3 separate regions of the Homo sapiens genome follow, and all the other regions are reported to be linked to region 1. The links are microRNA targets in miRTarBase. Many come from high-throughput screens and were not tested one by one. Region 1 holds a microRNA gene; each other region holds the end of a gene's coding sequence.
What was found. The annotated mature microRNA hsa-miR-647 reads GUGGCUGCACUCACUUCCUUC and lies in region 1 at 1,205-1,225, opposite strand. An mRNA with a match to its seed (bases 2 to 7 or 8) in the 3' UTR can be bound and repressed. Matches are read on the target gene's strand: a 7mer-m8 pairs with bases 2 to 8, a 7mer-A1 pairs with bases 2 to 7 and ends in A, and an 8mer does both.

Region 2: miRTarBase lists IRAG1 as a target of hsa-miR-647. The part of its 3' UTR that is shown has no 7-base or 8-base seed match.
Region 3: miRTarBase lists ZNF609 as a target of hsa-miR-647. Seed matches in the 3' UTR shown: 7mer-m8 at 3,045-3,051 and 8mer at 2,163-2,170.

What each region holds. Positions count from the first base shown.
Region 1 is chr20:63,941,487-63,945,595 of GRCh38, forward strand. MIR647 (microRNA 647) reads right to left here and starts at 1,240; the gene lies at 1,145-1,240. UCKL1 (uridine-cytidine kinase 1 like 1) reads right to left here. Exons shown (of 15, transcript NM_017859.4): 6 at 3,059-3,248; 7 at 2,911-2,972; 8 at 2,167-2,183. It overlaps MIR1914 (microRNA 1914), which reads right to left and starts at 58; the gene lies at 1-58. RefSeq lists enhancers at 832-1,545, 1,546-2,257.
Region 2 is chr11:10,572,763-10,576,762 of GRCh38, forward strand. IRAG1 (inositol 1,4,5-triphosphate receptor associated 1) reads right to left here. Exons shown (of 21, transcript NM_130385.4): 21 at 333-3,813. The coding sequence ends at 3,570. All of the region lies in intron 1 of IRAG1-AS1 (IRAG1 antisense RNA 1), which reads left to right. Among named protein-coding and RNA genes, the nearest start is that of LYVE1, 6.1 kb to the left of the region's middle.
Region 3 is chr15:64,681,175-64,685,174 of GRCh38, reverse strand. It overlaps ZNF609 (zinc finger protein 609), which reads right to left. Exons shown (of 10, transcript NM_015042.2): 9 at 3,788-3,866; 10 at 1-3,483. The coding sequence ends at 3,793. Among named protein-coding and RNA genes, the nearest start is that of OAZ2, 20 kb to the left of the region's middle.

The DNA of each region.
Region 1 (4,109 bases):
GACCCCTCCTGCGCTAAGAGGAAGCAGAAGTGGGCCGGGCACAGGGCGGGCTCACACGTGCTGATAGGTGTCATACCCCAGAATGGGTAGCTTGTCCCCAGCCTCTCCCCGGGGGAACTAAAGCTTTGTGGGGTCAGGCCCCGCCCTGGCTCCTCCCCGAGGTGGTGCGCGGCCCCTCAAGAGAGGGGGGTGGGGGGCAAAGCTGGCTCAGTGTCTCTTGGCTGTCCCGTCCCGCCCCGCTGCCCAAGCCTGGGGATGGCCGGGGCAGCAGCAGGTCTAGGAGCGGGCAGGAAAAGGGCGGGGTGGAGGCAAGAAAGAGGTGGGACAGGGAGGAGGCAAAGCCGGAAAGGGGCATGACAGGGGCAGGGAATGGGGCGGGGCAGGAAAGGGGGTGATGCAGGGGCAGGAAGAGGAAAGCGACAGGCCACAGAATTGGGTGTGGCAGGGGAAGGAAAGAGGCAGGGCACGGAATTGGGTGTGGCAGGGCAGAAAAGAGGCGTGACAGCGGCAGGGAAAGGGGCGGGGCCGGGAATGGGGTGTGGCAGGGCAGAAAAGAGGCGTGACAGCGGCAGGGAAAGGGGCGGGGCCGGGAATGGGGTGTGGCAGGGCAGAAAAGAGGCGTGACAGCGGCAGGGAAAGGGGCGGGGCCGGGAATGGGGTGTGGCAGGGCAGAAAAGAGGCGTGACAGCGGCAGGGAAAGGGGCGGGGCCGGGAATGGGGTGTGGCAGGGCAGAAAAGAGGCGTGACAGCGGCAGGGAAAGGGGCGGGGCCGGGAATGGGGTGTGGCAGGGCAGAAAAGAGGCGTGACAGCGGCAGGGAAAGGGGCGGGGCCGGAAATGGGGTGTGGCAGGGCAGAAAAGAGGCGTGACAGCGGCAGGGAAAGGGGCGGGGCAGGAGCAGGAAAGAGGGCCTAGCGGGAGCAGCGGGGCAAGGGGCTACGGGAAGGCGGGTCACACAGCAGCACCACGGAGCACACTGCTCACATATCCCAACGTAGCTTCCTCTGCTTGCCAGGTGAAGAGCATGTTCAGGGAGGGAACAAGGCAGGAAACGGGGGTTTACAGAGAGAAGGAAGAGAACAAAGAGAAGGCTGCTTAGTTGGGGAGCAGGGCGTTCCCCGCAGGCCTGAGGAGGAGTGTGGGCGGTCAGGCCCCCAGCCCTGCCTGACCCTCCCTCCTGCCCCCGACCAAGGCTTCCTGGGGCTGAAGGAAGTGAGTGCAGCCACAGGCCAACACTTCCTTGGCTGACCAGACGACGGAAAATGTGTCTGGCTGCGTTCAGGTGTTTTTCCAAGTTTGAAACCCTGGAAAGTTTTTCCTCTCAGAACAAAAGCTTCAGGAGGAACCTGACGGGACAAGACCTGCGGGTTCCTAGGCCGAGGAGAGGGCCAAGCGGAGACTCATGCAGGCACCGGAAGCTGGACGGCTGGTGGACGGGCCCTGGAGGCATTTCCAACATTTGGCAAACTCTTTGGAGGGCTCTGAATGTGAGGGCTCTCCCTCCAGGTGGCTCAGTCAGGAGCCTCCCAACCCACAGAAGGCAGGGAGAAGGGCAGGTCCCTTGTGGCTGACCCCCCTGCATGCCTGCCCTTGGGGAGGGACAGTGGGATGCGGCCCCGGCCCAGCCCAAGCTTCTTGCTGCAGTTGCCCAGTTCCTGCTGGCAGAGCTGTGCGGGCTGCGAGGACAGAGCTGGGGCAAGCAGGACCCGGGTGGGTGGGAGGACAGGCGCGAGGCCCTCCACCTGCAACCAGGGAAAGCTGACTGGTCCGTGAGGCTGGGCACAGGAGGTACAGCAGGCTCCCTGGCTGCTGGGACATGTCTGTAGTCACTGCCCCAGAGGCCTGGCAGTGCTGGCTCAGGAGGACAGCTGTGCTCTCTGGGGTCAAATCCCATAGACAGACTCAGGAGTCAGGGGAGCCTCCAGCAAAGTCTGGCCAGGACAGGGTCAGGACTCCGTGACGCTGGGCAAGCTACTTCACGTCTCTGTGCCTCAGTGTCCTCATCTGCCAGCAAGGGGAGGCAGAAGCAGGGCTGGGACCACTCCACACCACCCCTTCTGTGACTGGGGAAGAGCCAGCTGCCTGGCTGGATCACAGCCCAGACCCCAGAGCTCCTTGGAGGTGTTGGAAGTGCCTCCATCTGTGCAGACAGCTGTGCAAGTCTTACCTGACGCTGAGTTCACGCTGTGGCAGCAACACAGGAAGACACAAGGGAACGGTGGCGCGTCAGTGACCAGGGCAGGCGGCCAGGCCACCCCCACCCAGGAATGGACATGCTGCAGGCCCGCGGGGACACAGCCAGCCATGGGGGGTGGCAAGCTTCTAATGCCTGTAACCTGGGGACCACCTGGGCCAGACCTGCAGTTCTGCGTTGGGGCAATCAGAGCCAGGACCCTGGGCTCTGTTCTGCAGGCCTCAGGCCTTCAACATCCTGGTAGGGAGTGTGTTCAGAGCCACTCAGGCTCCAAGGCCCAGCCATAGAATGCCTCAGGGAGCAGGGGACCTCTGGTGGGGGTGTCGCTCCTGGGGTGACCCCCTGAGAAAGAGAGGAGCCTGGCCTGGCGTGGGACTCAGCAGTGAAACCCCACAATCCTGGGCCAGCAGGTCATGCCTGTCTTCCCAAAAGCTCAGGCTGGGTGTGCTGAGCGGGCTGCACCCTCGGCTGGGTCCTGAGCACCTGTACCCCCACCCCAGCTTCCTCAGGGAACCCAGGCCCTGCACAGCACAACGGGATGGGGTCTGGGCTGGACAATCTGACTGGCCAAGCAGGCTCAGGACACTCAGGGCTGGCACCTGGCAGGGGACAGTGAACGCAGGGGGATGAGGTGACCAGGCCACTGGGGGTGGTGGCAGCGGAGAAGTGGGTAGAGGGGCTGGGGGCTAGGCCGTGGGGACGTGGGACCCCGCTCACCTCCTCCAGCTGGCTGTGCACGTGCTGCACAATCAGGTCGATGGCCACCGTGTTGCCGCTCCCTGGGGCGGGATGGGGGGGCGGGTGACCGGGGGCTGGGCCGTTGGCCTGCCCGACACCCACCCAACAGGCAGCCCAGCAGGCTCACCTCTGGGGACCACGATGTCTGCCAGGCGCATGGTGGGCTGGATGTACTGGTCGAAGGAGGGCTTGACAAACTTGTTGTACTGCTTGATGACACCCTCGATGTCCCGGCCGCGCTCACTGATGTCCCGGCGCAGCCGCCGTACCAGGCGGATGTCGGAGTCTGTGTCCACAAAGATCTTCATGTCCAGGAGCTGGTGGAGACAGCGGGCCAGTGAGTGGCCAGATGCCAGCAGTGGGCATGGAGACACTGGGACCAGCCCCTGCACTGAGGCCGCCTGGTCCGTGGGCCTGGCCAGAGCCACTTCCCCAGGGCACCCTGGCAGGTGGGGAGGAGTGGGGAGGTGGGGGTGTCTGCACCTGGTCCGTGGGCCTGGCCCGAGCCACTTCCCCAGGGCACCCTGGCAGGTGGGAAGGAGTGGGGAGGTGGGGGTGTCTGGGGATGCGGTGCTGCCCGTCAGGGGCTTAGGTGAAGAGGCATGGCATGGTGGCTGGCTAAGGAATCAGGCAGGAATGGGGCTGGGCACATGTGATCTCCTTACTTTGCTTGGGGTAACTTGCACCAACACACTGGGGAATGGGGGACGTGGCGAGTTTAGGGTCTGTCCCCATGCTCAGCACACAGTAGTTGGCCCGTGAAGAGGCCTTGTGGAGGCTGGGGGCTGCTATGTGCCGGATGATGGAGTCCTCTGGGCCTGTACAAGGGGCAGGACCTGGGCCCTGGGATCAGGCCAACCTGAGTCACACTCAGCTGTGTCCTGAAGGCCCCCTTGAGCTACAGCAAAATCTCTCAAACACACCAGCCCTGGGTCCTCACCTGTCCGTCAGGACCACGGCAAGGGACGAGAACGCCAAGGACACTCCAGGTATGCGCACAGGCCTCAGCCGGTGGAGAGGAACCACTGCCTCAGGCAGCCACGCTCTGCCTTTTGGGGCCGGCAGATGGACCCAGCTGTGGCATGCCTGGGGTTGGGGTTGGGGTAGGGAGTGGCTGGCCTAGGCCTATACAGTGTGGAGGCCTTGGGGACAGGGCAGGAGGACGCACACCTCATGGA
Region 2 (4,000 bases), not on the chromosome of region 1:
TCCCCTGCAGCTAGCTGTAAGAAAGACAAAAATAGTTCAGCTGTGGAAATCAGGTTGGTTAAAAACTCAGCAGACTCAATCACAGCAAACTGTGTTAATTAAAAAAATCATAGACCAGGAAGATACAGGAAACCAGGATCAGGAATGGGGAAGGGAAGAGGAGGAACTGATCCAGCCCCTGTGAGGTAGCCCATAGTATAACGACCAAGGGTTGGGGACCTCTGACTTGGTTCTGGAATGCACTAATATATCCAAAGGCATCTAATTCTGGGTTGGGGTAAGACTGTAATTCAACTCCATAAAATGAGGAGGCATTTGGCTGCTGCCAGAGGTTTGGAAATGTGCTTTTATTTTCAAACTCAGGTATGTGACACTCTACAGTTCAATGCTAGCACACCTGTGTGAGGCTTAACAACATGAGGAACTGATAGCCAGTGATACACAAATCCAGCACTTCCTCTCCATTTACTCTGTCAGGCTGTATATGGGGAGCAACACATATGGCTTTGTGGCAGCCAGAAAGTGAAGGTCTTTTTAGGAGGTGACATCAACAATGACACAAACACATCACTCTGCAACTGAAGGCAGGGAACCAGACTCCTAGGGCTAAGCAGAGATGTCAGACTTCAGAGGCATTTGGGGGACTCTTCAGATCCACATCCTCACTGAAAATCCAGGGCCTGTTTCTCTCCAGTTCACTACCGCTTGGGCAGCAGCTCCCACTGCTTCAGGCTGGTCTTTGCTTTCCAGAAAAGATGGACTCATGAGCACTTTTTCAGCCCCTGTATATATGGCTATTCTTATGCTCCCTTTTGGAGATGTCCTTTTCCTCGACCTCCCTTGCTTACAAATGGAATAGGGTGGGAGAGGGCCTGTGCCTGGAAGTACTCTTGCAGGCTTTTCTGTGGGGCAGCTGGAGGTGCAGGAGCTCTCCATAACTGCCTTCCTGGCCTTTGACTCATCCAGAAACAAAGGTAGGAAACTTGTGACCAAGTGAACAATGGGGCCAGCTGAGCCTGGCCCTGCTTTAAGGGAGGCAGAGATTGAACATTCCCCACCTGGAGTTCTGCTTCCACGGCCACTCTCTAGAACTCTATTTGCATCCTGTCTTTGGCTCTGAGGGCCTCATGTAGCTAAAGCTCCTTCAGTTGTATCCAGACCCCCTGGAAGAGGCCGGGCAAATCATCCACTTCTGCCCCCAGAGTCCCTCTGCCCTGCTCTGTAACTCTTTACCTTAATGGCACATCCTTGATCAACCCTGGCTTGGGCCTCAGTCATTTTCTAGCTACTGTAAAGGATGCCCCCTTCAATAAACATGCTATTTTAAAGTGGGGCATGCTTGGGGTGGGGGGTCTCTCTGAAGGAGTGACTGCATTGAGCCCAGTCCTTGAGCTTGGCAATGGTGTTGCTAGTCTGGTCTCATTCCTGCTCTCTCACAGAGTAGACTGAAAAACAGAATAAGCTGAGGTTAAGAAAGATGTTGCTTTTTGCATTGTGATGGTGCTGGTACTGAGAAGCATGCAGCATGTCAGCTGTCCCCAGGCTGCTCTCCACCACCTTAAATGTTTGCTTGTTCTTTTGAGCAACATTTAATGACACCCTCCCAAGCGTCAGCCACCATGCTAGGCACTTACCCAAGAGATGGGTAAGACATGGTTCTTGTCTTTGAGGAAAAATGCTAGGGGAGATGGATACATAAATAGGCCATGGTATACTATAGGTAAAGGTCAATAATAATAATGTTTAAAACGTGCCAGAAAGCACAGAGGAGTGTGTGACCTATTATGTTGTGTCTGGTGAGGAGTATGGAAGGAAGGTCATCAAAGCTGGTATGGAGGGGATAATTTTTGCACTCGGTCGAGAAGAGTGACCTGAAGAAAAGAGAAGAACAGCTGGAAAAAAAACTAGTGAGTGGAGGTCCAGCACTATGAGAGAAACTGTTTAGTTGGGGAGCCAGAGATGGAGTAGCTGATGGGCCACTTGGGGGAATGAGACTGAAATGTGAGGCTTCCAGCTAGGAGACCATCAGAAGAGTCAAGGAGAGCACAGCTCTGGAGCCAGCCTACCCTGGGGTTGAGCTCCAGCCCCATGATTTACTACCGGGGTGTCCTTGTCAAGTTACTTGTTCTTTTTGTGCTTCAGTTTCCTTATTTGAAAATGGGAAGGGTAATATCCACTTCGTATTTTTTTTTCTTTTTCTTCAGGACTTAAATGAATTCATACCTATGTAATACTGAGAACAGTGCTTGGCTCATAGTAAGTCGTATATGAGTTTTAGCAATGAAAGCAAACAATATCAATAACAAAACAAAAATGCAAAACAATGACAACAAAACCCACATGGAAATCAAACCTCTACAAAACTGATGAAGGCAGTGGCTGTAAAAGTGGGGAGAGAAGTCAAAATGGAGAGGGGATGTGCTCCTTCAGTGTTGTGCTAAATAACTGGGGATGCTCTGAAACACCCCTAATTATACTGGGGTTGGAAACCCCATTTGAACTGAAGCACTGAGGTGCAAGTTTACTCTTGCATGTGGTCACACACAGAGTAAGAGACTGAAGCAGAAAGCACATCTTCTCTCCTCATTCACCTGTGAGGTGGGTTAACTGTTTTCAAAGAGAGAATAGGGAATAGATTGTGCTGTACAGCAGCTCAGAGTTGGCATTTGAAATGGAGACTAGTAAGTCTGCCATTGAAGCCATGAGTTTTCTGTGTTTTTAAAACATCTTCAATCCATGTGGACAGCTCATTGAACAGGTGCCTGGTGACTGCCCCACACTGGTGAAAATCTGTGGGTTGGCTTGGCATGCATCTTATTTATCCAGAGGTACACACCCAGAGCACACTTTTGAAGGGTTGTTGGCTCTGTGCACAGGCATGTTGTGTGTGTGTACACAACAGTATGTGTGTATGTGTGGACAGATGCGTATATAATAATTCATATCTTCCCATTTCAAGCACTGAGCTAAATTCAGCCTATACTTTTTTTTTTTTTTCTGAGAAGCCTTTCCTACTTCTGTAAAAAGAAACTCTCATTCCAAAGGAAAGAATGGGAGGCTGAAGTTATTGAAAATGAGATGGGAAATGGGAAGATAGTCACTTTGCAACTCCAAATTCCAGGTCTGATGCTTAGGGTGTTAGTCATTAAGCAAATTCTTCCTGATAACCAATTACAGAGAGGAAAAAAGAGAGTAAGTTTTTTACTGCCCCCTACCTCCTCCTCCCCCGTGCCCCGCTCCTTACCCCCAACCACCAGTGAAGGTGTTTTAGTTCTCCCCAGCCACCTGAGCTAGGGGCAGGAGACCTTCCCTTCCAATAGAGTTCCTTGGTGAAGGTGACTTCTTCATCCACTGGATGCTTTCCCAGGGCAGTTTTGTTGATCCTCCAAGAACATCAAGTCACTGTGTATGAATAGCTCCCACAGAAGTGCCGAGTGTTAAAAGAACCCTTCCTCATGACCTGATGGGATGGGCGGCAGTGTGTCCACACTTGGGCCTGACGTTATACTTGGGGAAAGGGTGGTAGTCTGAGTGTCTCAGAGCAGGGCACTGGCTAGGTGTGAGGTTTCCTACTGCTCTGTAGGCTGCTCATGCTGGAGTCCTGAGCTCCACCAGGAGTCCCTCTGGGCTGCCGAGCAAGTGGATCTTCCAAGGGGCCCATCAGCCTGCTCTGCACAAGAGTTATAGGAATTGTAGAGCCCCAGCACAACAGTCAAGACCAGCATCACTGCAGCCATCATCCAGATCACTTGCCAGTGCTGACACAGTTTGGGATACATGACTTGTAAGAAATGGACCAATTCTTCAAGTTTGCTGTCAATGAAAAAAAATATGCAGAGGCTTTAGTATACTGGGCACACATATGATACACAGACCCACAGTTCTCTCTGCGGATAGCTTCCATGCTGTCTTGAGCAATAGTTCTCAAACTTAGCTGTGCCTAGATTGGGTTGGCAGCAATTGTTCAAAATACCCCAAGCATACTAAATGAGAATATCCA
Region 3 (4,000 bases), not on the chromosome of region 1:
ATATATATAAAAAAACAAGGAACTTGGTAATGTACACTTTACAGAAGGGAAGAATCAGGAAGACTGAAATTAAATTCAACAGAGCAACGCCAATGGAACAAAATCTATGAACAGCAACACTGCCCCTCCAGCCCGGGCCTCCAGCTCGCCCCAACCTGCTCCCAATGGGAGGGCTGAGCACCAAGGCAAGCGGGTGGGCTGGGGCAGGAGGGGCTGGGGACAGGGCCTGGGAGGGGCTTGATCCCAGGAGGGGGGCCCATGGTAGGAGATCACTGGAAAGCTTCCTGGGATGCCCAAGTAATTAAAACAAACAACAAAGGCCCAGAATTATGGGGCCAACTAGCTGCCCAGTTGCATCTTGGGGGCATCAGAGTAGACAAGGGGATGGTGAGAGGGTATACGGGATAAGTGACATGGGTGGCCTCAAAGCCTGTATGAAATAATTCTCTAGCCCTCTGCAGTCTTAACTCGCAACTCTAAGTCCTGCCATGGCCCCTTAAACGTGGAAAAAAGAGACTCAAGAAATCACCATTTCATTTCATAGGGTGCCCTCTTACCCTTCTAAGCGTGTGGTTCTTTGACCTTGTGATGTGTGGAGAGAGTTCGGTAAGAGAAGGAAATTTCATACATGTACATGTACAAGGCAGGAAAAGGGGATGAAGGGAACTGCCATACCTTAAAATGAGGAAGTAGTTGATGTGGATCCTAAAGAGCAGCTCTCCAAGCCTTGCCTGATCTATCTGGGGATGAGGCCCCCTCCCTCTTTAGCTTCTCCTCTATGGGAAGCCCCGTGAGCAATGTCTGTGAGGGCCTGGGCAGGGGTGGCTCATAAACAGGCTTGGTCTGGTGGTCTTGGCCCTTGGTAGCAAATTTTTCCAGCCTTTGTTTGTGGGGTGGGATAGGATGGGGACCCCTGCTGAGCATCTCATCCCTCTGACTAGGTCATGGATGCCACAGGTAGCTCCCACCTGTGTTTCTCCTCCCCATGTAGAGGTGGGCAGCAAATCTTTCACTCAGCACTTGTCAAGAATCTCCACAGCTGCTGCTTCATGTTATTTCAGAGGGAAGACTAGGCCCGGCAGGCATCAGGATCTGCCATGGTGGCTTTCACCTGCTCTTCTGAGCAGCTCCTACTCTTCAGGGGAGACTTGGATATGAGGATCAAAGAGCCAAATGTTTAAGAAGAAAAATTAAAAAGGAAAAGAAAAACCTGTTCTCTTCTGGAGAACCCAAGGCTGCCCAGCTAATACAGAAGTTCGTCCTCTGTGTTACAGAATGAGTGGAAAGGGCAGGAATGCAGGGCCATGCCTGCCCAATGCAAAAGAAAATTACTCCTAACGGTTTCTTTACAATATATACAGAGTATGCTGCAGGCCAGTGCCACAGATACAAAACACACAACAATATTTAAAAACAAACAGGAACAGAGAGGGAACCTTGGCTCCACCTCACAGGAGCCCCAGGAGGGCATAATCAGGCTGAAATTCAGTCACCCTCTTGGTTGGGGTGACTCAGGTGGGGTGGGATGACGGTGTCTGCACTAGCTACTTCCACGGAGGAAAGGGAGGTCACTGCTCAGAGCACTGCCCATGAGGGCAGCAGAAGGCAGAGGGAATGATGGGTATGAGGGAGGCTGTTTTGGGGCCCTGCCAAGAGGTCTAAAACAATGGTTTTTGGGGAGGACTCAGAACCCAACTTGAACAAAAACGAGGAGGCAGAAACCTAGGGAAAAGGCCTGTAGATCAGAGGGGATCCTCTTGAGCAGATGGTGACCCTAAGCCTCTCAAGTGTAGGGTTCCAGGGTCCTTGGAAATCAACTACTACTGGGCATTGTGCTTACTGTCCCCTATTTCCCATTTTCCAAACTGAGTCGGAGCCAAGTTCCTGCTCCTAGTCACTTTTGGCACTCTGGTCACACACTCCCTTTTCCAGCCTACACTGGTGTCTGTCAGTCTTTATCTCTCTCTCTCAATCCAGAGGGTCATGGAAAGATAGGAGGGGAGAACAGAGGGATGATACCTCAAAAGCCAAGTAAGCTAAGCTCCCCACACCTTGGGGAAGACATGACCCCAATAAAGCTACCAAATCATCCTCACTTTCCCAGTACAAAGAGTATAAAGCTTCCATTGGGAGACTGCATTTCTAAGGAGAGCAGAGAAATGTTGGCTGCCTCAAAGCACAGCTCCACTGAGTACATTCTGAGACTCTAATAAGTAATGGCTTGGATGTGTTATTCCAGGGTCTAAGGAACAAATAACCTCCCATGGCCAGTGGCCCCTCAAACAAAATATGTGTTACCAAGAAACACAGCTTATATTGGCCCACATGGAGGTTATAGACTGAGCTATATAAAATCATGTACTTGTAGACAGAGGAATTGGGCTGTATATATCTGTGGCCTCAAATGAGGAAGATATCAGATGGCTAGATGACAGGACATCTCCAAGAACTGCTGGGTGCTCCCAGGGGCTGCCTTCTGGGCCTTGCCCTAAGGTGACCTGGCAGACTCCAAGGTTCCCCAAGCTGGGGGGAATACTAGTTTATCTGCCTGAGGCTTAAGAGCCAAGCAGTGGAAAAGAAGAGGCAAGACCAGTGTGGGGATCCCCCTGGGAAAGGCACCAAGGGGTTAGGAGGGAAGGGAAAAGGGCAAGGAGTTGGGGAATAAGAAGCAGCAGGACTTAGTGGGGACGCAGGTTCTACTTCACAGACGTCATTCATGCTCCAGCACCAGCTTGCTCCCAGTGTCCCTGGGGAGCCCTGTGCTGGTGTTGGAACCCCTGCCCCCTGCCTCACAGGCAGCTCAAGGCCATGTTGGGGCAGATGCCTTGGTCTTCCTTTCCAGGCTAGGTTGTGAGCGTTTATATGTGCTCATGTAAATGGGGAGAAGTCTCCACATTTGAAGACCTTGTTTTCACAATTATGTAGAAAACAACCCCCAATTTCTTTCCTGAGATTCTAGTTCCTCCACATGCTGCCAATTCCCAGGGTGCAAAGCACTAGGGAGATGCAGAATCTGGTGATGGTGGTAATGATGGTGAGGGGTATGGCTGCTGTGCTGTCTTCAGACCTTACCCAGTGCTTGGGGGTGGGGGTCCCTCCCTGGTGGGCGGGGGGGCTGGTACTGCTCCAGCAGCAGACCAAGGGCTTGGGGAACAGAGCAGTGGCTTCTCTGGGCTGAGGCCATGTTCCCCTGGTTGCTTCCCGTGCCTTCATCTCCACAGAGGCCACAATAGTCATAACTGTGGCTGAGAGAATAAATATTTTTGCTAAGTACCAGCTCTCCAGCTCCTGAGGAAGAGGTAGGGTCAGGTAGTCCGGAGGTCTGGTGGAGGTGAGATAGCCAAGGGTCTGCCTTCAGTCATGGTGGAAACGGCAAACAGGATGATCAACACCATTTAACTGATGTCTAAACGGCACCTTCAGCACCTCCTTGGGTAAGCCAGTCCGGGCCCGTGAAGCTGACTTTATCCGGGCACTTGGTGTCTGCAAGGGAAACATGGACAGATAACCAGGCACTCAGCCTGTTGGTAAAAAAACCACAAGGTGGCACTCCAAGAAAATGAATTGTAGGAGTGGCCAGTACTGGTCCCTAGGGGACACTGTGTTCCACAGGTCCTCTCAGATGCACATGGCTTCACGGGAGACTCTTGTACAAGAGGCTTGGCCAGGGTTCCATGGATTCCAGACTGCTGACCCCTCATAGCTATTTCTCACCTAGGGATTCTGTGATCCAGGTAGCAACTATCCCGGCTTTATGTGTTGCCCCAAATTAATAAAAGTGACTTACCATTCTCACCTCCTGGGGGGTGGGTAGAGTGAGGGAGTTGAGCCTTGTTGGCTGGCAACAATGGCTGTAGAAGAAAGCCCTGAATAAGCAGGAGAACATGTTAGTGTAGCACTCACAGAAACCTTCCATTAATCTTTTTCCCTGAGTTTTGGGGTGCTGACAGAAAAAAAAATCTGATACTCAGCCAGATATATTTGCTGGAGATAGATAATA